3 linked regions of the Homo sapiens genome follow. Changing the gene in region 3 together with the main gene of any one other region gives a genetic interaction. Each region holds a gene or a part of one and is shown on either strand. Other genes may lie near its edges.

The links.
Region 1: of EPS15 (region 3) and AGFG1, changing one enhances a phenotype caused by changing the other (phenotypic enhancement), as found in Homo sapiens cells (one study listed by BioGRID).
Region 2: of EPS15 (region 3) and AGFG2, changing one enhances a phenotype caused by changing the other (phenotypic enhancement), as found in Homo sapiens cells (one study listed by BioGRID).

What each region holds. Positions count from the first base shown.
Region 1 is NC_000002.12:227,559,101-227,561,789, reverse strand, and holds the end of AGFG1 (arf-GAP domain and FG repeat-containing protein 1), read right to left. Parts: 3' UTR 573-2,689; downstream 1-572. UniProt on the Homo sapiens protein: Required for vesicle docking or fusion during acrosome biogenesis. May play a role in RNA trafficking or localization.
Region 2 is NC_000007.14:100,535,078-100,542,320, reverse strand, and holds the start of AGFG2 (arf-GAP domain and FG repeat-containing protein 2), read right to left. Parts: upstream 3,119-7,243; 5' UTR 2,975-3,118; coding exon 2,754-2,974; intron 1-2,753.
Region 3 is NC_000001.11:51,397,148-51,404,274, forward strand, and holds part of EPS15 (epidermal growth factor receptor substrate 15), read right to left. Parts: intron 6,386-7,127; coding exon 6,272-6,385; intron 5,379-6,271; coding exon 5,288-5,378; intron 3,807-5,287; coding exon 3,771-3,806; intron 2,019-3,770; coding exon 1,885-2,018; intron 1-1,884. UniProt on the Homo sapiens protein: Involved in cell growth regulation. May be involved in the regulation of mitogenic signals and control of cell proliferation. Involved in the internalization of ligand-inducible receptors of the receptor tyrosine kinase (RTK) type, in particular EGFR.

The sequences.
Region 1 (2,689 bases), on a different chromosome or scaffold from region 3:
GGCTAAAACAAACATTAGTTCTCTCCTCCTTGTCCCCCACCCTCAGGTGGTGGAAATACTCATTGATTCTAAGGAAACAAAATTTTCTTCTGTGTTCTGGTGATGGTTAGTGAAAATAATTTAAACAAGATGTACAGAATAATCAAGATGGACTCATAACAAATAATAGTCAGTGACCACTACAGAGAAATAAGATTAGGGATGTGACAAACACAGTTCAGCATTTACCTTCTAAACTTCAACAGTAGTAAGGTAGGTAAATTCCCATTACAATGCTTTCTTAAAACCAACTTCCATCAATGTGTACTCCAGAAAAAAAAAAATCCATCTTTGAAAAAAAAATATTGCAAATTAAGTAACAAATAGATCCTGCTTTTTAAAAATGAAGACTTTTTAATTGAAAAATACAGAAAAAAATGGCAAAACTTATTAATTAATGGAAAACACGTTAAGCTGGAAGTAAATGCATGAGCTGCTTTACAGAAATGCATAATGTGAGTGATGAAAGGAACAAATATTCTTCCAATTTTCCAGATTTGACACTCATTTAAATGAAAGAGGCTATTCCCAAATGGTACACAAATTCAGAAGTCTTTATTTTGAAAAAAATTCTTCCAACAGTATTTCACAATGAACAAGAACTTAACCAAATTTATCTATCATACTAAAGTATTTCAGAAATGAATATTGAAAACAGCCTGTAAGTTTTCATCCAATATTTAAAACCACCTCCTGAACTAAAATTGGTCTTCAAAAATCATGGCGTATTAACATTTTCCAAACATGCCCTGCTGACTAGAAGGTCCTGTTATTCTTTCTTTTGAACTTCCCAGTAAGTTTCCTTGTTCCCTATTCCTAGGATTTAAAGTGCAAAGGTACTTTTTATGAGCTATTAGGACAAGTATTCTTCATTGAAAATAAACTTTTGCAGAAAACAAATCCTGTGCTTGACTAACAGCAAAGACATGTTAAGAAATTTCTGAGCTCCAAACCATGAGGAATCAGAATCACAACTTTCAGAGTAATAACTCACATTTTTTCTAAAGCATAGGAAGCTAATTTTGTATAATGAACAAATGTGGTTGTGCCAAAATAGGTTTTGCCACAGTTAATTTCCACTTTCTCTTCTTAAAAATAAGGTATAGTCTAAGCTAATGTAGATAAGGAAAGGCACGATACCAACAAACTGCAAAACAAAGTATAGCCCCAAGCCATGCACTTTTTAGAGTCATGAGTAGGGACAATGAAAAAATTAAGGTGCAAAATAGATGTGAACTTCCACAATCTTTCAATGGACTGTCTTAACAGTTTAATTTAAAAGCATAGGCTTTTTCATATATCTTCAGATAGTCAGAGAGATTTTTTTTCTTCTTTAAATGGAAGAATTTCTTAAATGGAAGCACAAGATCATACCTACACAGCTGGTGAGCCTCAAAATAGAATAATGTCTACTTTATTAATAAAGTTTCCAGTCAGGCAGAATCAAGAGTAATCTTCATATATGCATAAGGATATTATCATTATAACAATATTTTTAGTAGAAAAGTCTATAAACAAATGTTCTCCCAAAGGGACATCCATATAATGGAATCCTGGAGACATTAATGTTAGAGCTGGAAGGTGGCAATATGGAAAGACAACCAAGTTAAACAAGAACCAAGTCACAAACTTGAACATTTAAAATAAGAACAGGAAGAGGCATACAGAGAGAGAGCCATATATAAAATAAACGATAACATTTCTTAAAGACTACACAAGAATACAAGAAATTATATGCCTCTGGGGTATGAGAATAAAGTCACAGAGGGAGACACACTTTTTGACTTTATGCCCTTTGTGTATACTGCATAATTTTTAGAAATCATAAGCATATATTATAGCATACAAAAAACCTTTAAAGTCTTTAAAAAACCTGATTGTAACCAAAGCATTCTATGAAACATTGACTATGTAAGATTAGTTTACAATCCCTTGCTGCCTTTAGTTAATGATCATATAGTCAAAATTAGAAGGCTCCTTGGCGTTTGCTTCCTCTGTCTCTCCACTCAAGAATGAGGGAAGATGCTGAGAATTTAGAATTCAAATTTTACTCTCATTGCTTAAATTGTAACTTGGATAACATCTCAAGATTTCAGAGAACCGATTAAAAAATTAATCTATGGGCATTTTAATCACCATCTAAAATATTTTATCTAGGATCACTTATCTTTTTTTATAAAAGCTCAAATCACAACATTCTCTTTTCATCAGTCCCTACAGCCCTGTGTTGGACAAGCACAGATGTCAAAAATACACTTAAATATACGTTGAATTTTTATCCACTAGAATAAAATAAGCAGAATGATATGCATTCTTGGCGATAGTCTTCACTGGAAAATACCACTGTCAGCCCAAACTTACACAACTGACTTCAAAATCAGACTAAGATGTGGCATAAGAAGAGCTATTTCCTACCTTCACTATATATTCAGGATTTGCCAACTCCAAGGCCTTGAAAAACATGTGAATGTTTGAGACTAAGAAAAATTGGGAATGGTAAGCTAGTGGCCACCTTAAGAGTACATGCCCCATTTCAAAAAGATGGATTCAGAATGCAACGTTTTAAAACACTGTGCTGGTCACACAAAACAGAACTGCAGACAGAATTCAGTGTAAGCCTTGAATGTGCAACCCCTATAAGAGCACAATA
Region 2 (7,243 bases), on a different chromosome or scaffold from region 3:
TAAGCAGGCTGGGTGCCGTGGCTCACGCCTGTAATCCCAGCACTTTGGGAGGCGAGGCGGGCGGATCACTTGAGATCAGGAGTTCGAGACCAGCCTGACCAACATGGCAAAACCCCGTCTCTACTAAAAATACAAACATTAGCCAGATGTGGTAGCGCGTGCCTGTAGTCTCAGCTACTCAGGAGGCTGAGGCAAGAGAATTGCTTAAACCCAGGAGGCAGGGGTTGCAATGAGCCGAGATCGCGCCATTGCACTCCAGCCTAAGCAACAGAGTGAGACTCCATCTCAAAAAAAGAAAAAAGAAACCAGGTTTTTAACGTGTCCCAGATACCTTAGCTTTCTTTGTGTCCTGATTGAGGGGTATTATAAGGGAAATGTTATCTGTGGGACACTTTAACAAAGATCTACAAAATAATGATAACAATGTCAGCACTTCCCAGTTACTCAATTTTATCCATCAGTTTCATCCTTCTGCTTCTCATAGCAGGATCTTCAGGAATCAGCTCTTTCTCTTTCTACTTTACCCTATACATACTCCTTTTTTTTTTTTTTTTGTGAGACAGAGTCTCGCTCTGCGACCCAGACTGGAGAGTGCAGTGGTGCGATCTCGGCTCATTGCAACCTCCACCTCTTGGGTTCAAGCAATTCTCTTGCCTCAGCCTCCTAAGTAGCTGGGATTACAGGCACCTGCCACCATGCCTGGCTAATTTTTGTATTTTTAGTAAGAGATGAGATTTCGCCATGTTGGCCAGGCTGGTCTCGAAACTCCTGACCTCAAGTGATCTGCTCACCTTGGCCTCCTATACATACTGAGCCACCGAGCCCGACCCCTATACATACTCCTAAACGTTGCTCAATCTCTCCCCAGAGTTCTTCACCCACTCTCGAGTCTCTATCCTCTTGCTTCATTTCAGTCCATCTCAGTTTATGACACATTACTGTTTGGGTTCTCAATCATTATCCCAAGAGCCACGATGACTTTTACTTAGACCAAAGTCAAGTTCATCCTTACAACCCACAAGTGAGGTTGATCAGAACCCAGAGAGAAGTTTAGCAAAGGAGGTTAAAACGAAGTAAATAATTCCAAACGGTATCTTGAGAAAACTAAATCCTCATTGCTGGTCTGCCATGATCATCACTAATATCAAACAACAAATGTTGGAAACCGCAATGCCCATATGGCACTGGATAAGTTACGAAACCTCTCTTTGCTTCTGTTCTCCCATCTGTCTTGCAAGAACAATAGTGCTCGCTCCCTGGCTCCTAAAGGTATCAAGACAGGGAAAGCTTTTTTTTTTTTTTTTTTTTTTGAGACAGTGTCTTGCTCTGTCGCCAGGCTGAAGTGCAGTGGCGCAATCTCAGCTCACTGCAACCTCCACCTCCCGGGTTCAAGTGATTCTCCTGCCTCAGCCTCCCAAGTAGCTGGGAGTACAGGTGCGCGCCACCACACCCAGGTAATTTTTGTATTTTTAGTAGAGATGGGGTTTCACCATGTTGGCCAGGATGGTCTCGATCTCTTGACCTCATGATCTGCCTGCCTCGGCCTCCCAAAGTGCTAGGATTACAGGCGTGAGCCACAGCGCCTGGCTGGAAAGCATTTTTTAAAAAACAAAACAAAAACAACAGTGTCTTAAAATAAGACTAAAAAATTGTCAAAATAAATCCCTTGACAAACTTATTAAAAAACAGAGATCCAGGCCTGATATCAGATGTTAATCATGCATCTAACCAAATAATATCTTAATTTGGGAGTAGGAGGAGTGCAGAGGGGAGTGGAGGGGGCTTTACTATATAACCAGAAATCTAGGCTAGAATTGTGGCTGTAAATTCACTCTGGCATGACCGAACAGTACCAATGCCAAGAGTAGCACTCAGATGATGCACCAAAGCCCCCCCAAAATCTAGAGTTTCCTGGATGCTACCACCAGGATCCAGTCATGGCAACAGGGATCTTAAAGGTGTAAATGATTAACCTTCAGGATGGCTCACCTAGACGTGCAAACGTTTGAAAAAGCTAAGCTCTCTACCAGGGTAACCCATTGGCTCTCATCTCTTAGATTTCGTAAGAGTTTTACCTTCTGGGTAACATTTCAAAGCCCTGCTAAGATTAGTATCTACACCTGAACTCTGGACCATGGCTCCCTTCCAGCCACTATCTCTAGGCTGTCAATCGGGGTTAATTCGCTTTTTTTTTTTTTTTTAATCCTGTACTCTAATCATAGGAATTTCAACCAAGTTTCAGCTGGCTTCTGCATCTCACACTCCAGCAGGGACACAAGCCCGAAGGAAGAAAGGTGCCCGTCCATCTCCAGGCCGGCTTTCCCCACCTTTTTCCTTTTTGCTTTCCACCTGCATGAAGTTCCCTCTAAAGGTGCATGTCATTTTCTGGCCCTTTAAGTCCCGACACCCCATCCCACTCCGAGTTCCCTTCCATCCTCCGCACTTTCTCCCTCCCCACTTGCAGTTTGCCTCGACCCCCTCGGGGAGTTTCTCGGTCCCTCTCCGGGCGTCTTTCTGCACCCGTACCCTTCTCTCCGCAGAGCGACTCCGGCCTTGCTTCCTCTCCCCTGCCCTTTCCCCTCCCCACCACACCGCTGCAGCAGACGACCCCGTCCCCACAGCCGGCGCGTTCCCTGACCTCCCCTCCGCCCCTCACCTCGGCCCCCTTCCCTCGCGCCCCGGAGCCCCGGCCTCCCCACCCCGCCCCCGGGTCCCCCCACGCCGACCTCGGCCACTCCCTCCCGGTCACTCACAGGAGGCCGGAGCAGGTGGTGCACACGAAGCTGCCCACGGTGATATCCACGTAGGTGACCCCGCGCTGGGCGCACTCGAAGCAGTGGCGGTTCCCGGCCTGGCTGCAGCCACCCAGCTCCCGCACCCGACGGCACCACACCTCCGAGGCCGCCTCCGCCTCCGCCTTGCCCCCGCTGACCCCGCCGCCCGGGCCCGGGCCCTTCTTCGCCGCCATCACCATCGCTGCCCACTCCCTCCCCGCTAGTCAGCAATCACCCCTTCAACCACTGCCGCCTTCCCGCCTCCTCAGCCGCCTCCGCACGCCCGGCTCCCCTGACAGAAGCTCGGGAGCGGGCGGCATCCGCAGGAGACTTCGCCGTCCACCACCCTCCTTGCCCGTCCTGCACACTGATTGGCTAGGTTTCTCCCACCTCCTTACTCCGATTGGCCCTCCCTGGGACGGCCTCCGGTTGCTGGAGCCGCCAATGCCCCGCCCCACCGCCTTCAGGCCTCAGGCCTCTCCTATTGGCCGGCAGAGACCCCAGCAGCGAGAACCGTGCGTGCCCTCTCCTTGTCCCCGCCCCCTCTCGCCGCTGCCTCCACCGTGGCCCGCCTCCTAGTTCCGATTGGTGAGTCCTCGGCACTCGGGCTCCGACGCTAATTTTGATTGGCTGGCGGGGCTGCAAAGTTAGCGCGCGAGACAGAGGAGGTGCCCCGCGCGTGCGTAGCTGTCGTCCTCCCGACTGATGACGTTAATTCCCGGCAAATTTCAAAGGCTTACTCTAGACTGTGTAGAGTGTCATGCAAAGCCGAAGAGAAGTGGCCATGTGAGGGGCTGAGCAGGAGGGGGAAAGAAGAGAGCGCTTAAGGGAGAGAGGGAGAGGGAGCAAGAGTGCTTTACTAGACCAGTGCTCTAATTCCTGAGCCACAGAGCGAAGGGAGTGCTTTATAAATGTCATTTCATTCGCTCCGCCTATCCCAGAGGTGGAATCCCCATTTTACACCCTTAGGTTCAACAACTTGCGGCAGATCACACGAGTGCGTGGCCCAGGATTCCACTCTGGGTCTTCCAACTTTAGAAACCCTGCCTTTAACCCTCCTAGTAGGTGGACTATTATTCGATTATTCATTTAACAAACACTGAGTGTCTGCTAGGTTTCAGGCACGTTCTAGACACTGGGAATAGAATACAGCAGCGAAGCAATCAAACAAAATATTCTTATAGAGCTTAGTTTCTAGTAGGGGGAAGCAAACAATACACAAATTAAAGAATCACCAGTTAGTAATAAATCCTACGCAGAGAATTAAAATCACATCTTGGAAAAGACTTTTTGGGTACTTTTTTAATTTTTTAATTTAATTTTAATTTTTTGAGATGGAGTCTCACTCTGTTGCCCAGACTGGAGTGCAGTGGCACGATGTCAGCTCACTGCAACCTCTGCCTCCTGGGTTTAAGCAATTCTCATGCCTCAGTCTCCTGAGTAGCTGGGATTACAGGCGGCCACCACCACCCCCAGATAATTTTTGTATTTTTATTATTATGATTATTATTATTTGAGATGGAGTCTCGCTCTGTCGCCCAGGCTGGAGTGCAGTGGCACGATCTCGGCTCACTGCAAGCTTCGCCTTCTGGGTTCACGCCATTCTCCTGCCTCAGCCTCCCGAGTAGCTGGGACTACAGGCACCCGCCACCACGCCTGGCTAATTTTTTTGTATTTTCAGTGGAGACGGGGTTTCACCGTGTTAGCAAGGATGGTCTCGATCTTCTGACCTCGTGATCCGCCGGTCTTGGCCTCCCAAAGTGCTGGGATTACAGGCGTGAGCCACCGCGCCCGGCCAATTTTTGTATTTTTAGTAGAGACAGGATTTCACCATGTTGGCCAGGCTGGTCTCAAACTCATGGCCTCAAGTGAGCCTCCCGCCTTGGCGTCCCAAAGTGCTGGGATTACAAGCATGAGCCACAATGCCTGGCCACCTGTTGGGTACTTCAGATTGGGTTGGTCACCATTTTTAAAACAATTACTTTTTTTTTGAGACAGGGTCTCGCTTTATCACCCAGGCTGGAGTGCAGTGACACAATCATGGCTCACTGCAGCCTCAACCTTCTGGACTCAAGTGATCCTTCCACCTCAGCCTTCCAAGTAGCTGGGAGTACAGCTGTGCACCACCATGCCTGGCGAATTTTTAAAAATTTTTTGTAGAGATTGGGTCTCACTATATTGCCCAGGCTGGTCTGGACCTCCTGGGCTCAAGTGATCCGCCCACCTCAGCCTCCATCTCCCAGGTTCAAGCGATTCTCCTGCCTCAGCCTCCCAAGTAGTTGGGATTACAGGTGCGTGCCACCATGTCCAGCTAATTTTTGTATTTTTAGTAGAGATGGGGTTTCACCATATTGGCCAGGCTGGTCTTGAAGTCCTGACTTCAAATGATCCACCCACCTTGGCCTCCCAAAGTGCTAGGATTACAGACGTGAGTCACCGCACCCGGCCTCTTTTTGTTTTGTTTTGTTTTTTTTGTTTTTTTTTTTTTTTTTGAGACAAGGTCTTGCTCTGCTGCCCAGGTTGGAGGGCAGTGGCACAATCATACCTCACTGCAGCCTCAACCTCCCCAGTTCAAGTGATCCTCCCACCTCAGTCTCCAGGGTAGCTGAGACTACAGGCGCACACCACCATGCCTGGCTAATTTTTGATTTTTTGTAGAGAAGGGGTCTCACTATGTTGTCCAGGCTGGTGGCTGGCAGCCTGCTTTCTCTCTCTCTCTCTTGTTTTTTTCTTTTTGAGACAGGGTCTTACTCTGTCACCCAGGCTGGAGTGCAGTGGCACAATCTTGGCTCACTGCAACCTCCACTTCCTGGGGCTTGAGTGCTCCTCCCACCTCAGCCTCCCGAGTAGCTGGGACTACAGGTGCATGCCACCATGCCCAGCTAATTTTTTGTATTTTTAGCATGTTGGCCAGGCTGGTCTCGAACACCTGAGTTCAGGTCATCTGCCCGCTTTGGCCTCTCAAAGTGCTGGGATTATAGGTGTGAGCCACCGCACCCGGCCCCATTTTTCAATTAATGGCACCATGAGCCACCTAGTTGCCCAAAGCAAAAATCTAGAGCTACTCTCTTCAATACGGCAGCCACTAATCATATGTGGCTATTTAAGTTTAAATTAAATTAAAATGGGCTGGGCGTGGTGGCTTATGCCTGTAATCCCAGCATTTTGGGAGGCCGAGGCAGGCGGATCACGAGGTCAGGAGTTCGAGAAAAGCCTGGCCAACATAGTGAAACCCTTTAATCTACTAAAAATACAAAAATTAGCCAGGCATGGTGGCAGGCACCTGTAATCCCAGCTACTTGGAAGGCTGAGTCAGGAGAATTGCTTGAACGTGGGAGGTGGAGGTTGCAGTGAGCTGAGATCGCGCCATTGCACTCCACCCTGGGTGACAGAGCGAGACTGTCTCAAAAAAAAAAAAAGAAAGAAAGAAAGAAGAAGGAAAGAAAAAGAAAAGGAAAGGAAAAGGGGAGACTAAAGGAGGAGTAGGTTAGGGCAGGGCCTAACCTACTGGGCCATGGACCAGTACCTGTCTGTGGCCTGTTAGGAACCAGGCCACGCAGCAGGAAGTAAGTGGTGGGCAAATGAGCAAAGCTGCATCTGTATTTACAGCCACTACCCATTGCTCCCATTACCGCCTGAGCTCTGCCTCCTCTCAGATCCGCAACAGCATTAGATTCTCATAGGAGCACGAACCCTATTGTAAACTGCGCATGCAAGGGATCTAGGTCATGCACTCCTTATAAGAATCTAATGCTTGATGACCTGTCACTGTCTCCCATCACCCCCAGATGGGACCGTCTAGTTGCGAGAAAACAAGCTCAGGGCTCCCACTAATTCCACATGATGGTGAGTTGTATAATTATTTTGTTATACATTACAATGTAATAATAATAGAAATAAAGTGCACAGGCCAGGCGCGGTGGCTCACGCCTCTAATCCCAGCACTTTGGGAGCTGAGGTAGGCAGATCACGAGGTCAGGAAATCGAGACCATCCTGGCCAACATGGTGAAACCTCGTCTCTACTAAAAATACAAAACTTAGCTGGCCATGGTGGCACGTGCCTGTAATCCCAGCTACTTGGGAGGCTGAGGCAGGAGAATCGCTTGAACCCAGGAGGTGGAGGTTGCAGTGAGCCAAGATCGTGCCACTGCACTCCAGCCTGGTGACAGAGCGAGACTCCGTTTAAAAAAAAAAAAGTGCACAATAAACTTAATGTGCTCAGATCATCCCAAAATCATCCCCCAACTCCCACCCGCCGGTTAGTGGAAAAATTATCTTCCTGGTCCGTGGTGCCAAAACGGTTGGGGACTGCTGGGTTAGGGGGTGCTGATAGGCAGAAATCAGTAGCTTGGTTTTGGACATGTTGATTTGAGATCCTTGTGAGGCATCCAGTGGGCTGATAAGCAGGCAGGTGGATATGTATAGACTGGATTTCCAGGCCAGGCCAGAGCTGGAAATGTAGGTTTAG
Region 3 (7,127 bases):
GGAATTAGAGGTGGGAGCCACCACACCTGGCCTCAACTTAACCTACGTAAACCTCATAGGATTACTGTGAAAAGTAAATGAGACAATGCATATAAAGAGCTTGGCACCATCCCTGGCACACAGAGGAAATTAGATAAACTGCAGCTATTATTATATTGCCAATCTGGTTTTTTGTTTTGAATGGTGAAATTACAAGCTGTAAAGCAAGGACAATATTCCTTTAGAAAACTGGGAATAAAAGTCAGTAAAACAAATGGTAGAAAAATCTCATGGGGGACAGGACAAGAGGAATGTATTCATTTTTAAATTAGAAGAGCTAATTTAGCTTTCTTGCTCTTTAGATGATAGGAGAATGAGAGGCTAGAATAAGAAGGTGAGAGGAGAAGAATTCCAGTAGCAGCAATTTTAGAAGAATTTGGCAAATGGGTCCACATTGCAAACTAAGTGCTATAGGAAAACAGAGTATCCAGCAGCCCAGGGAAACGAAAAATATTCAGTCACGAAGGTATCTGTCCAGTTTTTATTCAATGGAAAACACCAGTTCTTAGCCAAGCAGCTCTTTACTGAATACAAAAAAGAAGCAACTTTCAATAATACAAAACCTATTATCTTTAAAATAATCAATTACATTTTAAAGGAAATATTCTTAATCTAATAGTACTAGAAGACAAATTTTTTGCTTCAAATGCTTCTCAGTTAACTGGTCCTTTATAGGTTCAGTTTACCTACAGACATGAAACTGTGGTCTCAAAAACGAAGTCTCAAAATACAAATTAAAAAGCAAAACCAAAAACCTGCAAAACCATTCCTAACTATTGAAATTGGGTAATGGATGCATGGAAGCTTGTTAAAATATTTCATTACATTATTCTCCTTTGAGTATTTCTAAATATCCACAAGATGAAGATTTTTTTTTTTTTTTTTGAGACGGAGTCTCGCTCTGTCACCCAGGCTGGAGTGCAGTGGCGCGATCTCGGCTCACTGCAAGCTCCGCCTCCCGGGTTCACGCCATTCTCCTGCCTCAGCCTCCTGAGTAGCTGGGACTATAGGCACCCACCACCGCGCCTGGCTAATTTTTTGTATTTTTAGTAGAGACGAGTTTTCACCGTGTTAGCCAGGATGGTCTCGATCTCCTGACCTCGTGATCCGCCCACCTCAGCCTCCCAAAGTGCTGGGATTACAGGCGTGAGCCACCGCGCCCAGCCATGAAGATTTTTTTAAAGCCTCCAGATAAAACAGCAACTAGCTATAGGACCTTAAACATGTTAATTTTTCTAAGTCCCAGTGTCCTCATTTTTAAAATAGGGATATCAACACCTACTTTGCAAAATTGATGTGAAGATTAGAAACAATGAATGTAAAGCACACACCAGTACCTGGATCAGGCATGTGGTTATTAAACAGTGATTGCTGTAGGTATGTACATTCTCAAGAGAGCTTGACATTTAGTGAGAATTTGTACTTTGCAGAATTAACATTCCAGATGTGTCTATGAAATAACATAAACGATTTTATTTTTCTAAAATTCTTTTAATTTTCATTATTTCAATAATATACCAAACATTTCAGAAAAGTTTTATGTAAGATTGGCTTATAAATTTCCAATCATTTTTAGTATCCTCAATAGGATAAGATTTAGTCTCTTGAAAGATGAACATCACTTTTGGACTCCGTTCAGTCATTCCAGTTAATTCCAGTGGGTAATCAAACTATGAAATACCAGTCTGAACCAAAAACTAAATGAATTGGGATGAGACTGAAATTCTTATATGGTCCATTAGAAGTAATCTAAATGAGGGTTCTTTCATCACTATGTATTTCAAGAAACTTGCTTAGGACACTTATTATCCATTTAACTTAACAGTTTTTAATTCTCCCACTTACCGATGTAATACTGCTATTGTTGGCTGCACTGAAAGGGTCAGTGCTTGAAGTGGCAAAAGGATCAGTAGATTGCCTGAAGAAACAGTCTGATGCAAATGGATCTGAACCTTTGAAAGGATCACCACCAAATGGATCTAAAAAAATAAGGCACGAATATAAGAGACAAAAAAAAATTATTGCACTAAATTTCCCATCACTTGAAGGTATGATCAGTGCCTTAATTAAAAGACAGTCTGGGGCCAGGTGCAGTGGCTCACGTCTGCATTCCCACCACTTTGGGAGGCTGAGACAGGCAGATCACTTGAGGTCAGGAGTTCAAGACCAGCCTGCCCAACATGTCAAAACCTCCTCTCTACTAAAAAACACAAAAATTAGCCAGGCATGGTGGTGCGCACCTATAGTCCCAGCTACTCGGGAGGCTGAGGTGGGAGACTCACTTGAACCTGTGAGGCAGAGGCTGCAGTGAGCAAAGATCTGCCACTGCACTCCAGCCTGGGTGACAGTGAGACCCTGTCTCAAAAACAAACAAACAAAAAGACAGTTTGGGCCAGGTGCAGTGGCTCACACCTGTAATTCCAGCACTTTGGGAGGTTGAGGTAGACGGATGACTTGAGCTCAGGAGTTTAAGACCGGCCTGGCTAACACAGTGAAACCCTGTCTCTACTAAAAATACAAAAATTAGCCAGGCGTGGTGGTGCGCGCCCGTAATCCTGGCTATTCGGGAGGCTGAGGCATGAGAATAATAGCTTGAGCATGGGAGGCGGAGGTTGCAGTGAGTCAAGACCGCACTACTTGTACTCTAGCCTGGGCAACAGAGCAAGACTGTCTCAAAAAAAAAATCCAAAAAGACAGTTTGAAATACTGTAGAATCTAAGCTGAGTACTTTTTATTTCACAGACTCCTTTGCAATTTTGATAAAAGATACAGAACCTTCCACCTAATAAACTTATTTTTAAAATTAACATATAATTTCAAGGGATCCAATTTTAAGTCCCCTTATTCTACGCTACCGTAACTAAAGAAAACACAATAAAAACTTCTAAATGTATTTTTCTCTCTGAGCTCAAAGCTAACAGCCAATAGTTTAGAACAGGTTTGGGATGCAAAACTAAATGGTAAACAAGATTTGCATTATTCTAATGAAAATTCCCAGAAAAAGAATATCTCAAAAAGCCTGATGTTTTAGTAATTCTTCAAGATTCTCTGCCTCTAATCACACGTGTGGGCTATAATCTTAGGAAAACAAAATTACATTCTAAACCCTGAAGCAGTATAGATCATTATGCTCACCAAACCTTTAGTTAGTAAGGAGGAATCAGAATAAATATTTAAAGCACCAAAGTCTAAACACTAATGTCATTTTTAAAAAAGTAAAGCTATCGGGCACAGTCGCTCACACCTGTCTGTAATCGCAGCACTTTGGGAGGCTGAGGCAGGAGGACTGCTTGAGCCCAGGAGTTCGAGACCAACCTCGGCAACACAGTGAGACCCTGTCTCTACAAAAAATAAAAAAAAATCAGTCAAGTATGCTGGCATGAGCCTGTAGACCTAGGTACTCAGGAGGCTGAGGCAGGAGGATTGCTTGAGCCCAGGAAGTCAAGGCTGCAGTGAGCCATGATCACACCACTGCATTCCAGCCTGGGTGACAGAATAAGACCCTGTCTCAAAAACAAAAAACACCAAAAAAAAAAAAAAAAAAAAAAAGAAGAAGTAAAAGTAAAGCAACAATTCATTAAGCAAAATCAAAAGAATTTACTACTCTCTTTCTGAAAATGCCAGGCACATAGAGCATCTTACTGGGGCTTCAGTTTCAGACCTAAATAACATAAGCTTATTATTAAGCAGAAATGAATGAAAGCTAAGATGAAACTCAATAAGATACTGACCGATTTTTCCAAAAGGATCATCCTTGAAAGGATCACCTGTGATAAAATAAACACAAAGAAATCCAAATAACAATATTTACTGTGGTGACACCACTACTTAAAGAGTAACTTTCAAACAAAAGCAAAGCAAAGTTTATTTCAATAACTTCACTTCACAGTAGATAAAATAAGGAATGTCATTGACCTTATGAAATATACAGCCAACTATACTTACCTTGATCACAAGTTGAGGTTACGGATGGAGGGGAAGACATTACAGCAAAAATTTTACTAACAAAATCTCTACTCTCCACAAGAGTACTGGGAGGGTATTATCATCACCAGTTCAGAAATAAAGGTACTGAGCTTTACTGAAGCAAAAAAAAAAAAATTCTTACAGGATTGAAGAGTCCAGAAATAAATCCTTACCTTTATGGTCATTTGATTTTTGACAAGCGTATCAAGAACACAAAATGGAGAAAGGACAGTCTTTTCAACAAATGGTGTTAGGACAACTGGATATCCACTTGCAAAAGAATGAAGCTCGACCTCTATCTCACATCATATACAAAAATAAACTCAAAATGGATCAAAGATCTAACTGTAACAGCAAAACTATAAAACTCTTAGACAAAGACAGCATTAAATCTTTGCGACTTAGGTAATAGTTTCTTAGATGACACCAAAAGCACAAGTGACAGAAGAAAAAATAGATAACTGGACTTCACCAAAATTGAATAAACACTTTTCCAAAGAAGATACACAAATGGCTAATAAGCATCTAGAAAGATGTTCAACATTAGTCAGTAGGAAAATACAAAGCAGGCCAGGCGCAGTGGCTCACACCTGTAATCCCAGCACTTTAGAAGGCCGAGGCAGGCGGATCACCTTACATCAGGAGTTCAAGACCAGCCTGGTCAAAATGGTGAAACCCAGTCTCTACTAAAAATACAAAAATTAGGCCAGACGCGGTGGCTCACGCCTGTAATCCCAGCACTTTGGGAGGCCAACGTGGGCGGATCACGAGGTCAAGAGATGGAGACCATCCTGGCCAACATGGTGAAACCCCGCCTCTACTAAAAACACAAAAGTTAGCTGGGTGTGGTGGCAGGCACCTGCAATCCCAACTACTCAGGAGGCTGAGGCAGGAGATTAGCTTGAATCCGGGAGGCAGAAGTTGCAGTGAGCCGAGATTGTGCCACTGCACTCCAGCCTGGCGACAGAGCGAGACTCCATTTCTAAATAAATTAATTACATAAATAAATAAATACACACATACATACATACATACATACATAAAATTAGCTGGGTGTGGTGGTGGGCGCCTGTAGTCTCAGCTACTCAAGAGGCTGAGACAGGAGAATCGCTTGAACCCAGGAGGCGGAGGTTGCAGTGAGCCGAGATCGTGCCACTGCACTCCAGCCTGGGCGACAGACTGAGTTGGTAGGCTATTGAAACTGAAGCCTTGAATCCTTAGTTTATATATTAAAAAGTCTTTTTTTTGGGTAAATCTATAATATAAAAAAAAGAGTACTTACTGCCAACAAAAGGATCAGACTGGAAAAAATCCAAGTTTGTATCTGCAACTGGACCTGTCAGCGAACTTGAGTCTACATTAAATGGATCTTCCTAAAAATAATTTTAAATTAAAATTATTTTTTAGAAACCAAAGTTTTAAAAGGTAACATTTTAAAATAAAATAACACACATTCAGGTCATACACATGCTTTGAAAAATCAACTGATGGGCCAGGCACGGTGGCTCACACCTGTAATCCCAGCACTTTGGGAGGCTGACGTGGGCAGATCACAAGGTCAAGAGATAGAGACCATCCTGGCCAAAATGGTGAAACCCCGTCTCTACCAAAAACACAAAAATTAGCTGGGCATGTGCAGCTACTCAGGAGGCTGAGGCAGGAGAATTGCTTGAACCTGGGAGGTGGAGGTTGCAGTGAGCCAAGATCACACTACTGCACTCAAGGCTGGGTGACAGAGTGAGACTTGGTCTTGAAAACAAAAGGAAAATCAACTGATGGTAATGTAACAAATATCTCTCTAGTCATAAAGCACCTTTAACACATTTTTCTCTTTCCTTCACCTTAACATATTTTTCTCTTTCCTTCACCTAAAATAGTGTATAATTCATCTGAGGAAAACAGTGATAAGGACATTTTTTTAAAATATCATTTAATTTTTAGAGATTAGGTCCCTCTATGTTGCCTAGTGCCTCCAACTCAGGCTCAAGCAATCCACCTACTTCACCTCCTGAGTAGCTGGGACTACAGGCACTTGCCACCACATCCAGCTATTAAGAACATTTATTTATTTTATATGTATAAATTCAAGGGGCACAAGTGGAATTTTGTTACATGGCTATATTGCCTAAAGGTGAAGTCGGGGCTTTTGATGTATCTATCATCTGAATAATGTATATTGTACCCATTAAGTAATGTCTGATAATTCACCTCCTCCTGTCCTTCCACCCTTACAAGTCCCCAATGTAAATATAAAATCATTTTTTACCTCTTTTGAATGTCTATTATTGTCGAGTTCAGAACAAACTTTTTCAGTAACAGCTGTAGTCACCTCATTTTCATCAGTCACACCAGAAGGCAGTAGTTCAGGACTACTTCTTGCCTACAAAATATTAATGCAAGTAGATTAACAATATACTTTTTGACATGGCAGAGAAAACTGACTAAAGATAACCAAAAACTATTTAAAAATAAAAAAAGACAAGCAGAATGTATTCATCAAATAACTTCTCCTTCTATAATCTTTTTTAGGGAAATGGTGTCATCAAGCATCAAAGTCACTCATGTCAGAAACCTTCAGGTCATCTTTAATCCTCAGAATATGACTCCAAGTCTTGCTCAGTCTACCTCTTACCTCTTTTTCAAATCCTTGCCTTCTTCTCCATCCTCACTGTCACTATCAATCACTTATAGTACTATCATCTTTGGTTCCAATTACTATAGCAGTCTTCCTTCCAACTGCTTTCCTGCCTCCAATACATGTATTTCCAATCTCTTCTCCTTATTGTAGCCAAACTAATAGCTCTAAAATGTGGATGTGATCGTGACCCTTCTGGTTAAAAGTCCTTCAATGGCTTCCCATTGTCTTCTTCATTTAGACGAGTGGGTGAAAGACTTAAGAAGTAGTAGGGGCAGGCCGGATGCAGTGGCTCACACCTGTAATCCCAGCACTTTGGGAGGCCGAGGCAGGCAGATCACAAGGTCAGGAGATCGAGACCTTCCTGGCTAACACGGTGAAACCCCGTCTCTACTAAAAATGCAAAAAATTAGCCAGGTGTGGTGGCACACGCCTGTAGTCCCAGCTACTCGGGAGGCTGAGGCAGGAGAATAGCTTAAACCCGGGA